Homo sapiens: one gene and its partners. The protein of the gene in region 1 purifies or fractionates together with the protein of each later gene. This does not show direct contact. Each region holds a gene or a part of one and is shown on either strand. Other genes may lie near its edges. The genes, in order: DCUN1D4, ARL4C and MSRB3.

Region 1 (7,876 bases):
AACAGTAACCCCCAATAGAAATTATTTTATGAAAAAAGCAACCCACGTTTTGGTCTCATTTACAGACACCCAACATTTTAGTTGGTCAATGAAATCTATACATTTATTATACAACATATGAAAGAATAAAGGATAAGGCTTACAGAGGTATTTTAGCAGTTTTAAGAATAAAAACCAAGGGCACAAACTAACTTTTAAAGCTTTCTGTATAAACTTCAAAAGCACTGTTAAAATGGAGACTGAGAGAGAAAATAAATCCATTGTGAAACCAGAATCTAGGTTTGCCTAGTCAGATTTATAAAAACATAATTCAGAGTTCATGCTTCAAAAAAGGTGCATGTAACATTACAGTGGATGTTTGAGGCAAATCAAATAATACAATTTCTGACCTACTTCAGCAGTAAACATCTAAAGGTTGTATTCCATGACAACAGAGTATTGCAATGTGGAGTTCGAAACACAATAGAAAAAGAGAAAGGGTTGTAGACTTAGGTACTAAAGAAAACCCAGATGAAGGCACCCTAATTTATTCAACATTAGCCAGTAAATAAGTGCTTGATGATTGTTCAGTTTTGTGCAACTTAGAGAAGTTTTTAAGAAAATGTATCATATTACTCTGTCTGACCCCTTTTTCTCCCCTTAGAAATAAATATATAAAATCAAGACAATCAAGGGTAAGCACTCTGCCGCTCAGCAGTCAAAGAGGTTTATTTTTCAAGGCAGTTTAAAGATTATTTGGAGTTTTCTTAATATGCAAGATTATCCCTTTGGAATACTTACTTTCTTATCATACATAATGCAATAGTTTTTACGCAGTTTTTTCCCTACCATCAAAATGTTGATTGTGGATTAACTGTAACATCTCCCTCCTGTAACAATCCTCTCATTTTAGAATTAACTGTGCTTATCAGCATTTTTTAAAAATCTCTATATTCTAACATAGTGTTTAAAATAACTTCATCTATGATTTATATTTGCTTTAAATAAAGCTACAGTTGATCAGATTTAAAGAACTGTATGACCTGTTGCCTTTAAAGTGTAACTTTTTAACTTTATGGAATAATTTTGAAAATGAATCAATTCTTCACAGATCCAAACCTGCCTAGGCCAGTCACCACTGCAAAACAAATGCATCCATCACATCAGTATTAATAGCTGTTGCTTGCCATTAACATTTCCTGTTCTTTTCAGATATTGGTTTATGCAAACTGGTATTAATTTTTAAGGTTGAAAGTGAATCTACAAATAAGGAGTGGTTAAGTATGCTTAATCACTACAGGGTTTTTTAAACTTCTGGTTTATTTCACAGCAAATAAAACCTTTCGTTTGGTAGAAAAAGAAAGTAGTTGCATTCTACTATATCATGATTTTGTATACACACACACTGTATATACATACAAAATTTCTTTCTTTGGTGGTTTAGTTAGGGAAAAAATATGAAAATGTGAACACTGTTTGCAAAGAAATGGTAAAATAGTGGTCAAGAGTAGCACTGTCTGTGTGCTTTATTCACTTAATGCCATTTAAACGATCACATGTCACCCGAAAGAAGTTTTAGCCAGAGTTCCAAATAACCCAAACCTTTTTCCAGTCATCACATGTTCAAATCACGGATCTTGCTGACCACGACAGCATTTACTTGTTCAAATGCACCATTACCTTTTACTCACTCAAATCATTAGACTTTTGTGTTTTCACAGAACTTTAGGGACTGAATTAGTCATTCAATAGCACCAGATAGTTGGGGTGAAAACATGTCATCTCTATATTTCCTCAAGAATGGCAAAAAAAAAAAAAAAAAAAGACATAAAATACAAACCTAAAAATACCATTCTGTTTATTCTTGTTTCCTCATCCACAAAAATAATGGCTATTGCCCTTCTGTACAAATAACTCAGGTAATGAAAAGTGGCCCCTCTAGGACAGGTCCTAGCATGTACTGGGTTAGCTCAATGCTGGTGGTTTCTTGTCCACTGCCTGCAATGGACATGCTGCCAGGAAAAGCCTAGCATGAAACAAACAAACAAGGAAAACAAAACAGCTCTCACTTATAGTATGCTTGTTTTCTCAAAAGGCTGGAAAATTACATACCATGAAAGCTTAACTGAAAATTCAAGCCACAACTAGAAGTGCGATGCAGTTATAAACAGCCAGCAAAACCATGAGGTTTTCATTGAGGAGGTGAAATAAATTTTACTTAGAGTGGCAAAGAAAGCATTAGCAGATCAATCACTGGCTAGAAGAATGCAAAAGGAAAAAAAGAGAACAAACAAACAAAAAAGTTAAAGAATGTTTATAAGAGTTTAAATCCCATTCTTTTAAGAAAAGAGGTGCAATTTGAATTTGTTCATTGGTACCTATATTCAAGCTATTATAGTTTTAACACTAAAAAATAAACAACTTATACACCTTGCATGGTAGAAATGATTTGTGGCATGTTACATATCTATATGTTCAAATAATTATAACTCATCATTTTAAAACACTAATATTGTTAAGTATACCAAATGATATTTGGCATATGCCTCTAAAAAGTTATGACTCCTACCTCCTTCCAGAAGTTGGCCTCTTAAACAGTAAGGTTAATTCTGGCAATGTTTGTTCATGGTAACAGTTTTCTCTTGTTTTCTGAAATGCTACATAGGAGACCAAATAAAGTATAATTGGTTCATTCAAAAAAAGGGACTAGAAATGCCACAAAATTATTTTTACAATACATTTTTCAGAAATAATCTCTAGGTGAACCTTTTTCCTTTTATACACATATACAAAATTTAAACAGCAATATACACATAATCACAGTGAGGACGTTGGCAAATTCACCAATCTGTAGTGTAAATACAAACTGCAAAGCAGCCTTCCAAGAGAACAATGCCACACAGCAAGCAGAGCTGGCCAATTCAATAGCAAACACCAACATGTCCCTGCGAAAGGGAAACAGTGCAAGAGAAGCAGCATGCGCTTTGATACAAACAGCAATTTATGGCTAATGGGTGACAAAACTGTGGTAACAGTGACTCTCTCGCTGCTATGCATAAAGTCCTAGGACATCTGTTTGTCTTTATACCACTCCACAAACTCGTCCAACAAAACTGGCCCTGGAGAGAAAGAGAGAAACAGTAGTAATAATAATAATAATAACAATAATAATAATAGTAATGTAGCTGAGGCTTTTCCCAATGAGGATGATATAGAAATGTACACGAATGGCAGAATGGTAGCGGCAGTACTTACATGCTCCATCTTCATCATAGTTGCTGAGGTCAAGATTAATTGTTCTGCTAAACTCTAGGACATTGCACCACTGGTCTTTATTAATAACTTTGTATTTTGATTGCTGATGGAGGGAAAAGTAATATGAATTACTGACACTTAAAATGAACAAATGGGACGGTTTCAATTGCTTTATGAATCAACTTAATTAAGTTCATGTAAGGTTAACTCTTTCTGTTTGAGGTTTGTTAAGCACCAATCTAGGAGGATGGTGAGGGAGAGCAAGAGTAGAATTTAAGATGACAATTGTCATTACAAAAATATGACAGGGTCTCAATACAAAATGGAAAGCACATCAAAATAACATGATTATATATCCCCAGAAGTGAAAATTCTAAACTGCAAAAGCCATTTTATATAAAATGCAGATAATATCTACTTCATAAAGATATTATAAGAATTAAAAGAGATCATTTACTAATTTATGTGAAGCACTTCATTCAGTGTTTGGCACAAAGTAAGTGCTAAATAAAGAGTAGCTCCCATTAATATAACCCCTGACATAACCAGCACTGCCCATGGCCAAGCCTTCGGCTTAAAGCACATGCAGCAGCAGGTTACTTGACGAGATCCGGTAAGTGCTGCAAGTGGTCTCAAAATTAGGTGTTCTTGTCACAGAAAAAAATTACTGTTCTAATAATTCAAAACTCGAATCTGATCATAAAAGAAGCTAGAATAGCTGTGAAATCGTTTTTCTATTCCTCTTAGACGAGAAATTTGCCATGTGTCTATTTAAAAATACAGTATCCCTGTATGAAGATTCATAAATAAAATCCAGAACCAATGATTTTTAAATCTTCCCCACTAAAATCAGAAACATAGTAAAACAATACAAGTACATAAAAAGCAAAGAGAGTTGAGTCAATGGTTTTGAGGATGCAAACACAAGAAAAGCTGAAATGAGAGGAATACTGTCTTTTTTAAAGAAAAATGCAAACTAATGTAAGAGAGAGAACAAAGCACAGACTACAAGTTTAACTTTCTAAGCAGGTAAAAGCAAAAACCAGTCCTGAAACAGTTGATGATGCACCTGGAATTACACAAAGTCAGATTTCCTCCAGGCCAGGTCTTCCAGCTTAAGACTCTTTACACACAGGTGTAAATCCAGCTAAACTCTCTGAGAACAGGGAACTATTTCTATTTATTTTTCCAAATAATGCTAACTCATCTCAAGGGATTGTCAGAGAAATTAGAACAGACCATATGTCAACATGGACTATTTTGGGTAAACAGATACTTACGTAAAACTAGTTTTTAAATTTTTGAGGAGTCCCACTTAGTAATGTTAAAAGAAATTTTTAATAACAGTTCTCAAAGAATCCTATCAGATATTAAAAATATTCTGGACCATTACATAAAGTAAGTTGTGAGAAAGATTATTCAAGAGTGAAGCCAGAGTCATCTTACGGCCCAGCATTTTCTCAAAGACCCAACACCCTCATCCTTGCAAGCAAAGGACACTTTTTAGAAGGGCTTGGGGCAGGAGGGAAAGGAGGATGCCATATATGACAACCCAAGTAACTCAAACTTGTATCCCATATACTTCCAGGTCCCACAGAATGACACTTCAACAAAACCAGTAGCTCAGAATTTCTGATCATCAATACTTAAAAGCACACAAACAATGATGGAATAAAGTGCTGGATTGTTCTGATACTGATCTGAAGACAATTTAAACTGAAGGAGATATTGTCAGTCTGCCTAATACTTAGATTGATCTAAGGTCCTCAAGTTACTTGGTGACAAGAGTAGATAAGAACATACTACAAACTAATTTTGGTAAGAAGGCAGATGACTGTCTTTTAAACCTCTGCTTAATAAAAGTGGAAGTTCATCTAAAGTCAAAAGAAAGTAAATCTTCTTTTTCTATTGTTACAAAGAACAGAAAATCTAAACAAAAGTGAAGCTTTAAAATGGGGATGAGAAAAGAGAGAAAAGGACAGAGCTGTGGCTGTTTCGGATGCATTTTTAATGTGGAATGAAGCAACACAACATTAAACGCATACACAGATGCACTCCAAGAAGATAGGTAGCTGCTGACTGACAGCAATTATGTCACCGTAATTCCTACATAGGCAGAAAAGTACAACAAACAAAAAATTACATACAACGGGTGAATAAAGTTATTTGGTAGTTCCAAGCAAGCAAACATACATTTCATAAAACAACAATTTGGTACCTCTAAGAATTGGTGAAAAACTGGAAAAAGGGGCCAGATTTTTCCTAATAACAGTCCCAACATGCACTTGGCAGTGTTTATGTCTAGGCTGCGCTGGTCCTTTTCCTGTTTAACAAACAAAAACAAGGATGAGCCAGATGCCCCCAAATAATAAATTCCAATAATTGCAAATGTGTATTCACTTCAACAGGAAATTAGTAAACAGCTCATTTATCATACACCTTAAAGACCCTGCATCCAGACTAAGGTTAGGGAGGGGAGGTAGTCAAACACAATGGAAGGCTTGGGCATTACGATATTATATAAATTTACTGTGAGAAAGATTTATGTCAACTGAATGATCACCCTAATGCAAAATCAATTAGTTATGTCGTAGCAGTTTCTACAGGCTTTTCATGGGATTAATAAAAACTTGTAACTCAATCACTTGCTTGTTTGATATTTATGATAATTATCAAAATCCTAATTGTTGACCATAAAGCCTATAACTCAACGGAGCTTAAAGGTTTTGATGCCTATGATTAGGAATCAGGTTTCCTTAATAAAAACGAAATCAATTTGATTTCATTGATAAATATTTTTCTTGAACCTAAACATGCTGGAATTGACTTCAGCTCATACCAAATGCTGGGGCTCTGAAGTGTCTCTCTAAATCAGAGGATAGATTCATCTACCCACTCTGGTGGAAGGCAGGAAGTCTATCAATACAGTCCTTCAATAGACAGATAGATAGATAGATTTCTTAGACGTAAATTTCCTAGTAAAATACTCCTAACTAGTAACCAAGTGAAAGACAACATTTCATAAGGACACCAGAAAAAAAGATAAGAACATAAACCTAAATAAGGGCAGGGTAAGCTCATTCCACTTACATTTGCAATTAAGGATCCTAATTTCTCATTTCCGTCTTTCTTATATGCTTCCATTCCAGAACTACAAGCGGTCAGTTTCCATGGAAAGGAATAGAGGGCCTGGGACCATAAGCATACCTTACATATCCAAAGCTAGCCTCCATGTGTTATCTTAACTACAGTGGAAATTTGTAAAAGTAGTTTTTTACAAAGGGAGAAAGTGCCTGGCTAGCCCAGTGCAGTGGAATCTAAATGTTCAAATTAAGGGATGATGCTGTGACCACCACCCTAAGCCACATATGCAGCCATATATACCTCCTGATAAAATAAATCATCACTGCAAGGACGCTTAACAGTGAGGTACTCTTTAGTATACAAACCATTTCTAGCCATGACCCTGAATTGGGACTTAATACAGCAAATGTAAGGGCCTCACTTAACAACAACAATCAAGGTAGATGAAGACAAGGAAACTTGTTGCCTAAGGAAGATGTGCAATAGATCTGGCCTTTTGGTCTCAGTTGTGAAGTGTAACGACTGTCCATGAATAGACCAGGTCAGATGGCTCCACATCACCCTTCTTTCAGAGGTCACATAACTTAAGTCTGATGAGGGCAGGTGTATCCCAGTTCCACAGTTCTATGCAAACAGGTGGGACCTCCTTTCCACAGGGTTCTCTGCCTGTCCCTTGGCCATATGTATTGTCCTGCTCAGGGCTGCAGTACGCACTCCCAATGGAGAAGAGGACAGGAGAAGAGGTGATCTAGAGACTGCCTGCCTTTTGCCAGACAAACTGCATTGGTTTGTTGTGTTTCAAGGGCTTACACTTCTGTGATGACACTGTGCAAGCAAATGGAAAACTTCCTCTTACCCTGTAACACAGGTGTGGCAGACGGCAACAGCACACCATACTATGAAGCAATCCACAAGATAAACGAGTAAACTGTTGAGAAACACACGCGGCACCACAGGACTCGGCCAAAGTCCATTTGTTGAACAACAGCTTATGCAGCACTGGGCTGACAACACTGGCGCTCTGGAAGAGTTTTCCCTTTGCAGAGTTTGTAATCATTCACTAAACCCCAAATCTCTAGTCTTGCTGTGATATATATTGTGCCTTCTTCCACCATCATCAATACCTATGTCCCCGTCACAATGGACATACACTAAGGTGACAAAAAAGAAAAAAAAGATACAAAAGACCTGGACAGACTCTTTGCAACAATATAATCATCTGACAAACTGATGATCATGAAGGATTTCAATGCATATGTTTGGCAGTGATGCCAAAACACGGAGGAAAGGCATCAGACTCACAGGACTGGAAAGCTGAACAGCACTCACTTACTCCTGCTCTGCAAGGGTGCCAGCCAGCAGCTCGCAATCACTAACACCATCTTCGGCCTAGCAAATAAGAGAAAGATATTATGGATGCACTCACAATCTGAATAGTGGCATCTCACTGATAACCAACATTTCCTGTGAGTGGACTTGTGGCTATGTGCAAATGACCATGACTGGAAACACTAAAAATTCCCGGGAACAACAGTCGAGAGCTCCCACAGCAAACATC
Region 2 (8,731 bases), on another chromosome or scaffold:
CCCCCTGAACTGGAAGCTGGCACTAAGAACTTTTCTGTCACTTTGGTATGCCTGAGTGCTGACTTCCAAAGCTTTGAGTCTTAACATCCTTGACAAAGGTTCATTTAATACATGCCATGTAAATATTAGGGAGAGATGTAAAATAGTGTTATATAAGAATTATATTTGAAAATATTACTGATAGGAAAGATAATGGCTTCTATTTATTATTATTATTTTTTGAGATGGAGTTTCGCTTTTGTTGCCCAGGCTGGAGTGCAGTGGCGCGATCTTGGCTCACTGCAACCTCTGCCTCCCAGGTTCAAGCCATTCTCCTGCCTCAGCCTCAAGAATAGCTAGGATGACAGATGCCTGTCACCATACTCGGCTAATTTTTATATTTTTAGTACAGATGGGGTTTCACCATGTTGGTCAGGCTGGTCTCAAACTCCTGACCTCAGATGACCCTCCCACCTTAGCCTTCCAAAGTGCTGAGATTACAGATGTGAGCCACCATGCCCAGCCCAGATAATGGCTTCTAAAATTTTATATCTATCTCAGGAATGTAATAGAGATCGACAATTATTAAGGAAGACTTGAAGCGGGGGAGCCTTTTAGCTTTTTGATTTAAATTTTTTTTCTTGGAGAAAACAGCAACAACAACAACCATACAAAACACTAGCAGTGGTGATCATTGGGAAAATAAAAACCTGAATTGTTTCAGCCCTGTTGCTTAGCAAAATAAAAAATAAGGCACCCTGATTTTTTTTTCCTTAGAATTATAAACTTGAATGGCCAATAGAGTAGTGGATCTTTTTTATTTTCAGGCTTTGGACCACTTGAATGAAGCAGGAGCTTGCAGGCATCACAGATTTTCATTTATCTCCCCCCAGATCTACCGTCCCATCCACAAAACTTCCCTTGGCACCAGTGTCTTAGTGGCTTCCACTGTTACGTAGCCTGAGTCGGCGTTTCTCCTGGAGTTGAGGGGGTTGCACTGCAGTGATGGTGACTGGTTTGTCTAGCATGCCCTGGGGCTTCTGGAAGTATTGGTTTGGTTCTTCCTTAAGGAACCTCTCCTGACAGATAAAAGGCTTCAATCCTGGACCACCTGGCTTCAGGAGCTTCAGGCCTTGTCACTTTGTCTGCCAACTGGCCTCCTTCATTCTCGACTCCCAGCCCCATTCTCCATTTACAGCTGCTCATGCCTGCCTGCGAATTAGATGCAAAAATCAGTTTTCTTCCCTTCTCTGGTCTCAGCTGGGTTTCCTGGATGCTCTTTTCTGATCTCTTCCACCAATTGTGATTCTTTGAACAGTTCTCCTAGTAAAGCGACTTCCTGCTCTGCCAGGTTCCTGGCTCCCCTCTCCCAGCAGATAACCCACAGGTCTCACAGACAAGACCCACACTGGCATCAATGGCTCTGAGCTCTGAGCCCCAAGCAAAGCACCCATGGGCCCCTGGCACTTTCTCAGTTTAACCAGTAGGGCTCTATTCCTGCATCTCCATAGAGAGAAGAAAAGCAGGGGGTCACTTATCCATCATTCATTCCATAACTATGGACTGAACATTTGCTAAGCACTAGGCCAATGTGCCTCTGTAGAGCCCTTCATCTATTATCCGAGAAGCTCAGCAGAGGGCACTCCTGTATTATAACAGTTAAGCACCGGGGCAGTGAACCTGAACCCAGAGTTCCACAGCAGGTCTGCAGTGAGAACATGCAAATAACCCCACACTTATGCGCGCACGCGCGTGTGTGTATGTGTGTACACGTGTGCCCATGTTCTGGTCTTTATTTACTCATCATATTCAAGAATAAATGGGATGCTCCCTTTTGCATTTTAGGTTATTAGCCTTACTCAAGCAAAGATAATAATGCCATGATATATTGCTCATCGGATTCACTCAAAAGTCATTTTAATTGGTGGCACATTTTATTTCAAAGCCCTTAAAGGGAAAAAAAAGAGAATATTTTAGGATGCAATTTCAAAATTACTGCCAAGTTATTGCCTTCTGTTTGCTTGAAATAATTGAGTTCTTCTCTGGATGCAGTCATCTTGATGAAGAATAGAAAGGAGAGGACCTGAAATGTCACTGCTGCTGGAAGAGGAATTCATCTCAGGCAGACACAAGTACATGCTATTCTTTGAAAAAATCTCTCCTTCTGATTAATTAAAATGAAGTAAGTGCCACAGTGCAGCCAATATTTTCCACTCAGTGGAATTTAGCCATGATGTATGTCCATGAAGAAATAGGCTCAAAGTAGGCCTTACATGTCTGATATGAGTGGTAAACATTACCTTCCTTTTCATAATTCCAGTGTTTTTCAATAAAAATCCACATTTGAAGGAAAGTTACCAGTCGACTCAACCAAATGATATTTTTATGTGTTAGAAGTTAAATTATCAACTGTAAAATTAACTTATCACCTGGTGAGTGAAATTAGCAGGTAGAGTGGTTGCTATTCAATTATGGTGAGTTGCTGTTTAATGGCTGTGTTCTGGAAGGCTCTATTAATGTCTATTAATCTGTTTTTTCCTACTGGACAGCAGACAGCCCTTTATTGCTAAACCCCATCATGGTGGTGCAAAATGTGGAGGCTGCAGTCAAAACCACTGAGGCTCTTGGTAATAATTAGCATAGCACCAAAAAGATACATCGGATACTTTACTAAAATATCTCCTTCCTACCACCTTAAAACTTAAAGCAAGTCTTGACTAGGGGAAAAGGAAGTAACACAAAGGTAATCTGTGGAAGCCGGATGGAGAGGCTTCCAGTCTGATCTGTCTCTTTCCAAATGTCCAGGTCCCAGGCTACTAAACCAAAGGCTCATCTTGGGTTGGGGCTCAGCCTCGGCCCTGCCTGTGGCAGAGAAGAAAGAGAAACAAGAAACAGTCTCATGAGAAGCTGGCTATCTATGGGGCAGGCATTAAAGAGAGTCAAGAAAATCACTCCAAAAACACAAAATCCTGTCTCCCCAGGGTTCCCAATAACGGAAACATCATCATTATGAATTATGCCAACATATGTTGTTTCTGTTGCCTCACTAGAGTTGCTCTTTTGGTGACAGATCCTGGATTCTTCTTGGAGAACCACCCTTCCCGATTTCAACCCCTGGGCCACATCCACTGGTGTGTTCCCTCCTCCTGGACTGCAGTCCTTGATCCAGGGTGCGTGCTCCAGGCTTTGGTTAGAGTTACTGGGAAAGAGTTGTACCTTTTCCTTTCCAGGATCTAAACCAAGGATGTGAGTCCAAGGCTGCCAGAAGGAAAAAGAATCAACACAGGGGAACACGGAGGAGGACTGGAGAGACACCTGCTCGAAAGACTCCTTTTGAGCTCCTGGGTCTAGCCATGCCTGAAGAGGACCTTTATCCTTAACTTTTCAGTGATGTCAGTGAATACATTTCCATTTTTATTTAAAATGAAGTAAGTGGCACAGTGCAGCCAATATTTTCTGTTGAACTCTATCCTTCGGGTGGCTCACTTTATTCCTCATTGAAGGAAATAGCGTGTGGGTAGAGTGGGATGTGAGGAAGAGGGCAGGCAGGTGCCCAGTTTTGTGCATACAGACCCTTGGTCCTGGAGCAGGCAGTGGGCCTCTAGGTTCTGCCTTAGCCGTCACGGGCGCCTAGGCCTTGTTACCTCACTGGACAACGTTGGGTGGAATGATAGGCAGGGTCCTTTCCAGCCTGATACTTCGTTTCCAGCCCCAAATCCACTCAGTAGAGTGGATGGTCGCTCCGGCTGCCACCTTGGGAATTCCAAGGATAGGGGTGGTGGTGGCTTGTCCTTCCTTCTACAGGTGAGGTCTTCTCACATGCTTTGGTACCAACGATATCATATGTCTTTTCGTGGTTTGTGAACAGAAGGTGATAAAGTATTTCTCTAAAATTCTAGCTTTTATTCATAAATTCTTAGCATTTTCATTTTCTTCTCCCTTGACCCCGTTTCCGTCGTTTCTGTCTCATAAGCTAGAGCTGGGAAGATGCGGTCGCCCATGCTGCGGCCTGCTGTCTCCTGCGGAGCAGCTCTCCCCAGATCTGTGTGTTTGCCATAATATACTCTCACTTTTCTCCGCACCCAGAGAGGATATACATTTGTTACATGTTTACAAACCAGAATAAAACCATTGAACTGAGGTGACAGGAGGTGGAACCCGTGGAATATCAGTGTTTGTAACCCACTGCGCCACCAGCTCCAAGCTGTAGACACATTTTCTTTCAGCCCCCGGGGCTGGTGTTGCCATTTCTGCGGAGTAGTTCACCTGCGGGCAGGTGGTTCTCAGTTCCCAAAGTCGGGTGGCAAGGGGTGCTCTCCCGAAATGCTGACGCTTCCCCTGGGATGTCAGCAGAGTCGATGCGGACGAAATGAGGTAGCCCAGGCGTGTCTGGGAGGGTGAGCTGTCCGAGCTACTTGGGGCAGGTAGGTCTTCTAATCCCCCATCGCGGCCTAGGTCCGACCCTGCCCCAACCGCCGCCACCGGGCAAGAAAGGCTGGGCCTCCAGGGTGCCCTGGGCACAGGCCTGGGCTCCGGAGGGCGGCGCTGGCCGGGTGCAGCCCCCTGGAACCCAGGCAGGAGGCGAGCCTGGGCGTCACTGGGGGCCGGGGCCGGCGACAGCCGCGGCGCGAGGGTGGGAGGGGACGCGCCCGGCTGGATCCAGAGCGCAGGCTGGCAGCTCACCGAGGCCAGCCCCGTCCCGTCCCTTCTGGGGTTTGGAGGCCCCAGCCTCGCCGCCCTCACTCCCCAGAGCGGCGCTCTCCCAGTCACCCTGGGGGCCGCCCTGCCCCGCCTCGCGCCCACAGAGCTGGGACCCCGGGACCCACTCCCTCAGGCAGGCTGCGTCGCCCACGGCTGCGGCCCGGAGGGGCAGGGGGCGGGCTAGGACCCGGGCGGGGATTCCGGGAGCCGAGAGCTATTTTTGCAAACGCGTCAGCCGCTGGGGAGGAAGAGCCGGCTCCGCGCCCATTGTGTCTGCGCGGCGCGGCGCGGGAGGGGCCGGGGGGCGGCGGGGGGCGGCGGGGACGCAGCGAAGCGCGCGAAAACGGCCGGCTGGGCGGGGAGGACCGCGCCTGACCCCCGGCGGCGGGCGGGGCGGGGCCCGGGGCGGGTCCGGGGGCGGGTCCGGGGCGGGGCGCGAGGGGGCGGGTCCGGGAGCTCTCCGGCCGCTGCAGGCTGGCGGCTGCTGCGGCGGCGCGGGGACTGTGAGGCTGCCGAGCGGACAGCGACTCCCGGGGAAGCCCGCGCTCCGGGAGCGGGAGCGGGAGCAGGAGCAGGAGCAGCGCCGTCCCAGGCCAGAGGCGAGCGCCGGGCGCCGGGAGAGCGGAGAGCCCGGGCAGCTGCCGGAGCGCGGGGGCGCGGCCCGAGGAAACCACAGAGCGAGCCCAGGCCTGGGGAGGGCGCCGAACATCTGAGGCGGCTTCGCGGGAGACAAAGCCGCGCGTAGAGACGCGATGCCCGCCGATCGCGAGCCCGGCCGGCGAGGGCGCGGGGACTGCGGCGTCTGAGCGCGCCAAGCCGTGCGCCCGCGGGGACGCCGAGCCCCGGGGCCGGTGCGGGCGGCGGCGGGCGGGGCCCAGGTGCGCCCGGCCGCGTCGGGCCCGTGACTGCTCGGGGGGCGGCGCCCTCCCGCCGCAGCCGCAGTGGCTGGCGCCGCAGCCAGGAGCCATGGGCAACATCTCCTCTAACATCTCGGCCTTCCAGTCCCTGCATATCGTCATGTTGGGCTTGGACTCGGCCGGCAAGACCACGGTGCTCTACCGGCTCAAGTTCAACGAGTTCGTGAACACGGTGCCCACCATCGGCTTCAACACCGAGAAGATCAAGCTGAGCAACGGCACGGCCAAGGGCATCAGCTGCCACTTCTGGGACGTGGGCGGCCAGGAGAAGCTGCGGCCGCTGTGGAAGTCCTACAGCCGCTGCACGGACGGCATCATCTACGTGGTGGACTCGGTGGACGTGGACCGGCTGGAGGAGGCCAAGACGGAGCTGCACAAGGTGACCAAGTTCGCCGAGAACCAGGGCACGCCGCTGCTGGTCATCGCCAACAAGCAGGACCTGCCCAAGTCGCTGCCGGTGGCAGAGATTGAGAAGCAGCTGGCGCTGCACGAGCTTATCCCGGCCACCACCTATCACGTCCAGCCGGCGTGCGCCATCATCGGCGAGGGCCTCACCGAGGGCATGGACAAGCTCTATGAGATGATCCTGAAACGCAGGAAGTCCCTCAAGCAGAAGAAGAAGCGGTAATGCGCCCGGAGCGACCGGGGAGCGAGCGAGTGCGTCAAGAAAGAATGAATGGATGGATGGATGGTTGGATGGATGGATGGATGGATGAGCGAGAACCCGCGCCCGCGAACAAAGAGCGAACCAAAGCGATGCTTCGAATTTTTAAAACGGAATCTCTGCACCCAAATGCAGGACTGGTGACTTAAGGAGCTGCGAAGTCTGATTTACCGGCCTACTCTCGACCTGCCCCCCACCCCCAGCTCAGGGGACCTTTTGTCTGAACGCCAGAGCTACTGACCAGGTCGGGGGGCCGCGGTGGGGAGTGGAAGAGCCGGTCCTGCTGTCCGCCCTCCCAGCCCCAGGTGGAAGGCTCAGTTGTCGGAAAGACAAAAGCGATTTCTTCCCACTCCTGCAGGGCCAGAAGTTCAGGCTGCCCCGCCTCCACTGGGGGATCGCACCTGTGAATTACCTGAGGTATGCATTTCCCAGAACCGTGGGCGTACCCACCTTGGGGGGCATGTTGGTTCTGGGGGGACCACCTCTCCTTGCATTCAGGGGCTGTGAAGCTGAGTAATTTTCGGTCACAGGGCAGGCCCCTGTTGAAATTTCATTTGTCCTGCTCTGGGCCCAAAGGTGGTGGTGGTTTGGGTCATCAGAGGACTGCCTGGGACGGTTCAGCGGGCACGGAGCGCTGTGCTGGCCTGGCTGGGGATGGCCGCGGAGGTGCCCTTTTCCTGGTGCTTTGTGGTGGCTGCAGAAGACCAGTTTTGTTGAGAACTGCTTTTCAGCCTGGAATCAGACATCTTCCAGATGGTTTGGACCCTGTCCATGTGTAGGTCATTATCACACAAAGAGACCAATAAAAATAAAAAAAATAAAAAAAAAAAAAGACGAACTATTGGAGGTGGTGGCCAATGATGCATTTACTGTTTGCAGGATAGTTAAAGGTGTTTAAAGGGTAAGGCTTTTGGTGTAAATGCTGGATGGGGTGTGTGTGTGTGTGGATATAGGGACCTCCCTCTGTACTGTGTACTGTGTAATCGGCATTAATACCTAGACTCATATGTATGGAATTTTAAATTCTCTTAGCCTACTGATTGGTTTGGATGAGCACACCAGCTGCAGGTGTGTGCTGAATTGCAAGATGGTATTTTTTTTTTTAACCAAGGGATGTCTCTTGTAATACTAACCGCGTGATAATGGGTTTTCAGACATGATGAAAAAAAAAAACTTTTACAAATGAATACTTACCTTAGAAATATTCACCTTAGGAAAAAAGACTTTGCTCTGCCCTTTTATATTCCTTTATGCTGCAAGTGGTGACATGTTCAGATTTCTAATTTGGTTCATTGTGGCCTATCTGGTTTAAGTCTTTCATTAAAAATGTCTCGTTAGAGTATTTGATGTCATGCACCAAAAAAATAAAACCCCACCTTGTTGCAAAAGCTGACCTCGTTGCATGGAATTAAAAGAGAAGGAAAAACACAAGGATGAAGTCTTTCCGAATTCATTCTTGTGGGAACTGGCCTTCGGAGCCAGCCAGCACTTTGGGCAAATGCAAACAACAATGAGTGCTTGAGATAAAAGAAAGTGTGACGTCATGGTCACTGGTACTCAGGCACTTCACAGTTTACTTGAAAGAGGCTTTGGAAAATAGATAAAGTGAAAGAAGAATAAATACATATTTTTAATAATGTAATTTTAAAAATCCTTTATAATCAGGACTGAGTCTTGGTTTGCAGAAGCTGTCACTTACCCTGAAACACAGTATCAAAAGGGAAACTTAAAACATACTGTTTGATTTTTTTATTTCCTCTTACAATCCATGTTTTCAGGTAGAATTATGACTTTCCCCCCATTGTTACACATTTCTTTACAAAGGAGGCCTGTAGAAATTGGACACGATCATGCTTGAGCATGTGAGTTAGTCAAATTATGAGTCCCTGCCTATTGTCCATTACACACCGAATGTTAATTTAAGAACCAGAGGCAGAAGTTCTGGCTTCCTGCTTGAAACCCAATTCTTATATGAAATTTTTTAAAAGCAGAAACCTAGCAGCCCATCTGCTTTTTCTCTTTTGTCGGTGTATTTGGTACCCCTCCAATGCTGGTCTTTTTGTAGAAACTCAGTAGAGAAAGTCTAGCTAAGCAGTGTTGAAAAGCCTGCAAGATTTCAGTTTACATATCGACAGCATATCCACTGATTTCTAAATGGGCTGGTCCCATCATCTGAAGATTCTGTATAGAATTATTAAAAAAAAAATCCATCTTTCTTTATTTTCTTCACATGCGACAATTTCTTAAGCACTTTGACATTTTGGTAGTTCCACACTATTGAGAGAATAATATATTTATTTTGTGACATTGCAGATGCCAAATACTGTAACCTTCTCATGATAACAATACTTAGGTTCAAGATCACTGTTCAAACCCTGTCATGCTTTAAAACTGATGCGAGATGATTTTGTTTTTTGCATAATCAATACTTAAGGGTGCAATCAACTGTTAGTAATTGTGCAGTAAAGTA
Region 3 (4,601 bases), on another chromosome or scaffold:
CCAAAAGTCGTTTTGTTGTTAAGATCTAGGTAACAGCAGTTTTCTGACAAAAAGAAAGAGTTGAAGATTTGGGTACATGGCACCTTTGAAGAAATATCTTAAATGGTTAAAAAAAATGATGATAATTTTGAAAGGAAGTATAAGAAAATAGAAGAGATGAGAAAGGTGATATGTAAATTTATACACTGAAGTCTGCTCTCTAATTCTTGGAATTACTGTGATGAACCCTGCCATGGACATCCTGTGGTCTAGAAAGGCACTGGGAAGCACCACTGGGCAGCCCAGGCTCAGTCCAGAAATGCTAATAGGAATTAAAGTGGTGCTAGTGAATGAGGACAGACTAGTCCTCCTGGACAAGACAAATGGGCAGTGAGGGACGAGAAGCGCTACAAGGCATGACATTTTGGAAAAACTATCCACCCACCCCTATAGAAAGAAAAGGACTGATGAAAAAAAAGTCGTTTTCGAGGGTCAGATATAAATGCTTTTAAAATTAATACTAATTGAAGTTTTCTCACTAAAAGTTCCAAGGCAGTGGTTAAGCACAAGAATCACATGGAGGGCTTTCTAAAATGCAGATTGCTAAGGCCCCAGCCCAGAACTTTTGATTAACTTGTATTTCTGGCAAGTTCCCAGGTGATGCTGATACCTCAGTGTCTGAGGACTACACTATGAAAAGCAGTGCTCTAAGGTATACTACATAAAGTTGCTGGCCTGTGAATTTTAAGATACCAGGAGTATGACTTAAAGAATTGGCTGAAGAACAAAAGTCTTCATCATCCCACTTCTGCCTCCTAAAGTAAATAAATCAACAATACAAAACAACTCAACATTTCAACAACAAATAATACAATACCAAAACTTATCTGTAGAGATGGCTTTTATCAGTGAAATCATCTGTAAGCAGTGGAAAGCTCCTAATATACTTCCACAGAGAACAACCCTCAATGATAGTGTAAGTTTCCTGTCAAATTTTTTAACAGAAGCCAAGGCATCAGCGTGGTATCATTCCTGCATTTTTACCCACAGAGTTTTATGGTGGAACTCCCAAATCCATATTTTAAGCAAGAAACATACACAAGCTGCTGAAGATTTTGCTGAGGTGAGGTGAAGGTTGAGTAATTCTGCAAATGTTTCCCTTTCCTCCAGTCTTTCAGATCCCTGGAGGCCTCTCCCAGGGCCTGTGGTGTGGAGAGTTGGACTTGACCCTACTGTAAGAGACCCAACTTCCAAAGACTGCATCAGATGAAAGGCTCTCCATATAGACTACAGACTTGTCAGCTGGTTAAGGAGGCAAACAGAACAGTCTGCTACAAACTCCAGTCCATGTATCTGTGCTGAAAATAAAAGGAGTCTTCAGGAATCAAAGAAGAAAATATTTTTATAAAGAAATTTTATTGCATAATTCTTGTATACAATAAACATAGGAAAAGGGTTTTTAATGAAAATTCATGTCATTTTTCAAAAGTGTTGAACTGTCTGGAGAAAAATTATTACAAAGCTATCTAAGGCAAAAATAATATTTAACCATCTAAACAAAAGATAATCCCCTTTACCATTTGTTTTGTATTTAAAGCAAGACATTTTAAACACAAGTAATACGGAGAAGTTTTCAAATTGCTACGTCATTTGCATTAAGAATTTAAATGCATCTAAGAAGTGAAGAGTTTAAACACATGGGAATGTTCTCTAGTAACAGATATTGCTGCTTTCTTCAGATCCATTCTGCTTGAATGTAAGGCTATACTTTTTGCACACCAACAGAATTCTGCATCTTCTAATGGTACAGTAAGAGCTGGAGTGCAGAGAGGGAAAGTCCCATGCACTTCCTATGTTAAATGGCATAACTCCCACAGATCACATACACCTTGCCATATTGACTCAGTTCATTGCACTCCATATCCTGCAAAAATAAATCTAGTGCTTGACAGCTGACATTATTGCTCACTGACGTTTTAGTAATATATTTCTTTCACATAAGACAGAAATATACTGAAATTTGATACCACTTAAACCCAAAAGCAATCTGGAATTAAACCACATGCATACACCCCACTTTTTTTCAATAGATGTTGCATTTTTCTTAAAGTCGATCCTGGAAAATGTGGTAGAAGAAAAACTGGCTTTCCTTGAAACAAAGACTAAGGATTAGAAAAAGAGGGGCTTTTTTTTGAGTGAAATGTTAAGCCCTACGATATAAATGAAGGAACAATGACAATCCAGTCTCTGTGGAGAGGGAAGAGGCCTCTCACTGATCCTCCTTGTCTACCTCAACACTGTGGCCCGCGTCCCACGGACCCCAGGGGAGGCTATCCTACAGAGCTGGAGCAGCCGAGAGGTGCTGTGTGTGCCTCTGAAGGATGGGCTGGAGGCTGTGGCAAAGCCCTGAGAGACCTATTTCTTTGGCCACCCCAACGTGGAATCCTGGGGTCACTGGGAAATACTAGGGCTTTCTCTGTGAGATTGGGAAAGACTTCTAGGATGGTCTGGACGCTGATGGCTGAGGTCTGGTCTTAAATTTTACACGTCATTTCTAGAGAGACGTGAAGCCTACGAATTCCAGAGTGAACCCAGGGCCTGGGGTGAAATGTCTTGGAACCTGAGGGAACATCTGGATGCTCAGATAGAAACCTCTTATCTGAGCATCCAGATAAGACCAGAGCTCATCTGGAATCAAGTGTACATGACTATAAAGAGTCCACCGGGATGTCAGGCTTCTTAGAGAGGTGCTTGTAGAGAGAGACATGTAGGAATGTGGACATGGCCACACTGACGCTGTTTGTCACAGATTTTCATTCTAATTTCTTGTTGTTTCTTTAAAATTGTCAAATGTCCCTCTTTCTTTTTTTTCTCTTAGTGCTTACAAGGAAAGCTGTCAGTCTTCATAAACTTTCAAAGAGTTACAAAAATACGTATTTTTTAAACTACAATTCAAGATTAGCATCCAAACCTACAAACATGATGTACATTCGTCACACACCATACAACCTTCACACCTGGCTACAGCAATGTTGACTTACATCACCATTGTTTATACTTGTGAAAACTTTATTGTGCACAGTGACATCCATTCCGCCAGACTTAATGTTATAAAGCAGCTGAGCAGAGCTTCTCAAAGTAAAACTAGCCGTGTTGCTACAAAGGGAAATTCTGGCTCTTGGCCCAACTGTTTCCATACCAATCAGCTAAGTCAGCCTCCTCTCTGCTTCTTTCCATTTCAAATGCCTGGGCTTTGGCCTTTGAGGCAATTAGAACCAGATCAGTTTAATTTTACAACACTGATCTCAACTGTATAGCAATATAGTGAATTTGCCCTGAGAGTATCAATACATTTTACAAATATTATGAGTCCCAGTTTATGCATGAAGAAATAGGCACAGAGAGGCTACATGGCTTGTCCTTTGTCACACAGAAGATTATGTTGAGTATGAAACTTGAGCTTCCGTTTTAGCTTTCCATGTGAATGCCCATGTCTCTCCAGAGGTCACCTGGAGCTCTGTGCACAAGGGCCACCCCACTTGGATTCTGTTTGTTACTTGTACTGCCCTGTCAGTTTTTCTGCCCAGCACTGAATTTTTCAGTACCCAAGACTTCATCCTTGATCTTCTCTGCTCTCTCTCATTCCTGCTGCCTTGATGAAGTGTGTTGCCCCTAATATTTTATTTTACACAGTGGAATTTGTGCCCTTCCAGCTGCAGCTGCTTTTAGGTGTGGAGAGAAGGACTTATAAAAAGGCGATGGACAGGCGTTCTTCTTTTTGAATTTTAGACCAAGTGGGGCTCAATATTTTACAGTTGTCTTACATTTGAATGCTGCTTTCTTTTTCTTTTCTTTTTTGACAGGATCTCACTCTGTTCAGGCTGGAGTGCAGTGGTATGAGCTCAGCTCACTGCAACCTCCGCCTCCCAAGTTCAAGCGATTCTCCTGACTGAGCCTCAGGAGTAGCTGGGACTACATGCATGCGCCACCATGCCCAGCTAGTTCTTATATTGTTATTATTATTATTTTTTGAGATGGAGTGTCACATTGTCATGTAGGCTGGAGTGCAGTGGCATGATCTCGGCTAACTGCAAGCTCCGCCTTCCGGGTTCACGCCATTCTCCTGCCTCAGCCTCCTGAGTAGCTGGGACTACAGGTGCCCACCACCACGCCTGGCTAATTTTTCGTATTTTTAGTAGAGACGGGGTTTCACCATGTTAGCCAGGATGGTCTCCATCTCCTGACCTCGTGATCCACCCGCCTTGGCCTCCCAAAGTGCTGGGATCACAGGCGTGAGCCATTGCACTGGGCCTCCAATGCTTTCGATGGAAAATAAAATAAAATAAAGGCCTAACAGTGTGGTAATGTTTACTTCTCTGCCACAACACTCAGTATGCCCCTTTGGATCTGGCAACAATTTAACATAAGGAAAGACTTTAGACCTTCACACCCTTTCAGTGAGAAAAAAAAAAATGACCTTAGCTCAAACTTTCCACAAAGCTGAACAGTCTCATTAAAACATCACTCCAACCTTATCTTAGGTGGGTCTGTGCAAAGGCCTCAAGGCCATGTGTCTTGCAGGTCTCCATGCCCTGCACTGCCCAGCTCTGGTCTCTACACTG

What was found.
Region 2: the proteins of DCUN1D4 (region 1) and ARL4C purify together in Homo sapiens (affinity purification with mass spectrometry; 2 studies listed by BioGRID and IntAct, with this or other methods). This does not show direct contact.
Region 3: the proteins of DCUN1D4 (region 1) and MSRB3 purify together in Homo sapiens (affinity purification with mass spectrometry; 2 studies listed by BioGRID and IntAct, with this or other methods). This does not show direct contact.

Annotation. Positions count from the first base shown.
Region 1 is NC_000004.12:51,908,751-51,916,626, reverse strand, and holds part of DCUN1D4 (DCN1-like protein 4), read right to left. Parts: intron 7,708-7,876; coding exon of another isoform or gene 7,652-7,707; intron 7,470-7,651; exon of another isoform or gene 7,175-7,469; intron 5,558-7,174; coding exon 5,453-5,557; intron 3,338-5,452; coding exon 3,235-3,337; intron 3,099-3,234; coding exon 3,043-3,098; 3' UTR 1-3,042. UniProt on the Homo sapiens protein: Contributes to the neddylation of all cullins by transferring NEDD8 from N-terminally acetylated NEDD8-conjugating E2s enzyme to different cullin C-terminal domain-RBX complexes which are necessary for the activation of cullin-RING E3 ubiquitin ligases (CRLs).
Region 2 is NC_000002.12:234,493,502-234,502,232, reverse strand, and holds the start of ARL4C (ADP-ribosylation factor-like protein 4C), read left to right. Parts: upstream 1-5,151; 5' UTR 5,152-5,646; coding exon 5,647-6,221; coding exon of another isoform or gene 6,222-6,225; exon of another isoform or gene 6,226-6,396; coding exon 6,397-6,427; 3' UTR 6,428-8,731. UniProt on the Homo sapiens protein: Small GTP-binding protein which cycles between an inactive GDP-bound and an active GTP-bound form, and the rate of cycling is regulated by guanine nucleotide exchange factors (GEF) and GTPase-activating proteins (GAP).
Region 3 is NC_000012.12:65,463,683-65,468,283, reverse strand, and holds the end of MSRB3 (methionine-R-sulfoxide reductase B3 isoform 2 precursor), read right to left. Parts: 3' UTR 1,377-4,601; downstream 1-1,376. UniProt on the Homo sapiens protein: Catalyzes the reduction of free and protein-bound methionine sulfoxide to methionine. Isoform 2 is essential for hearing.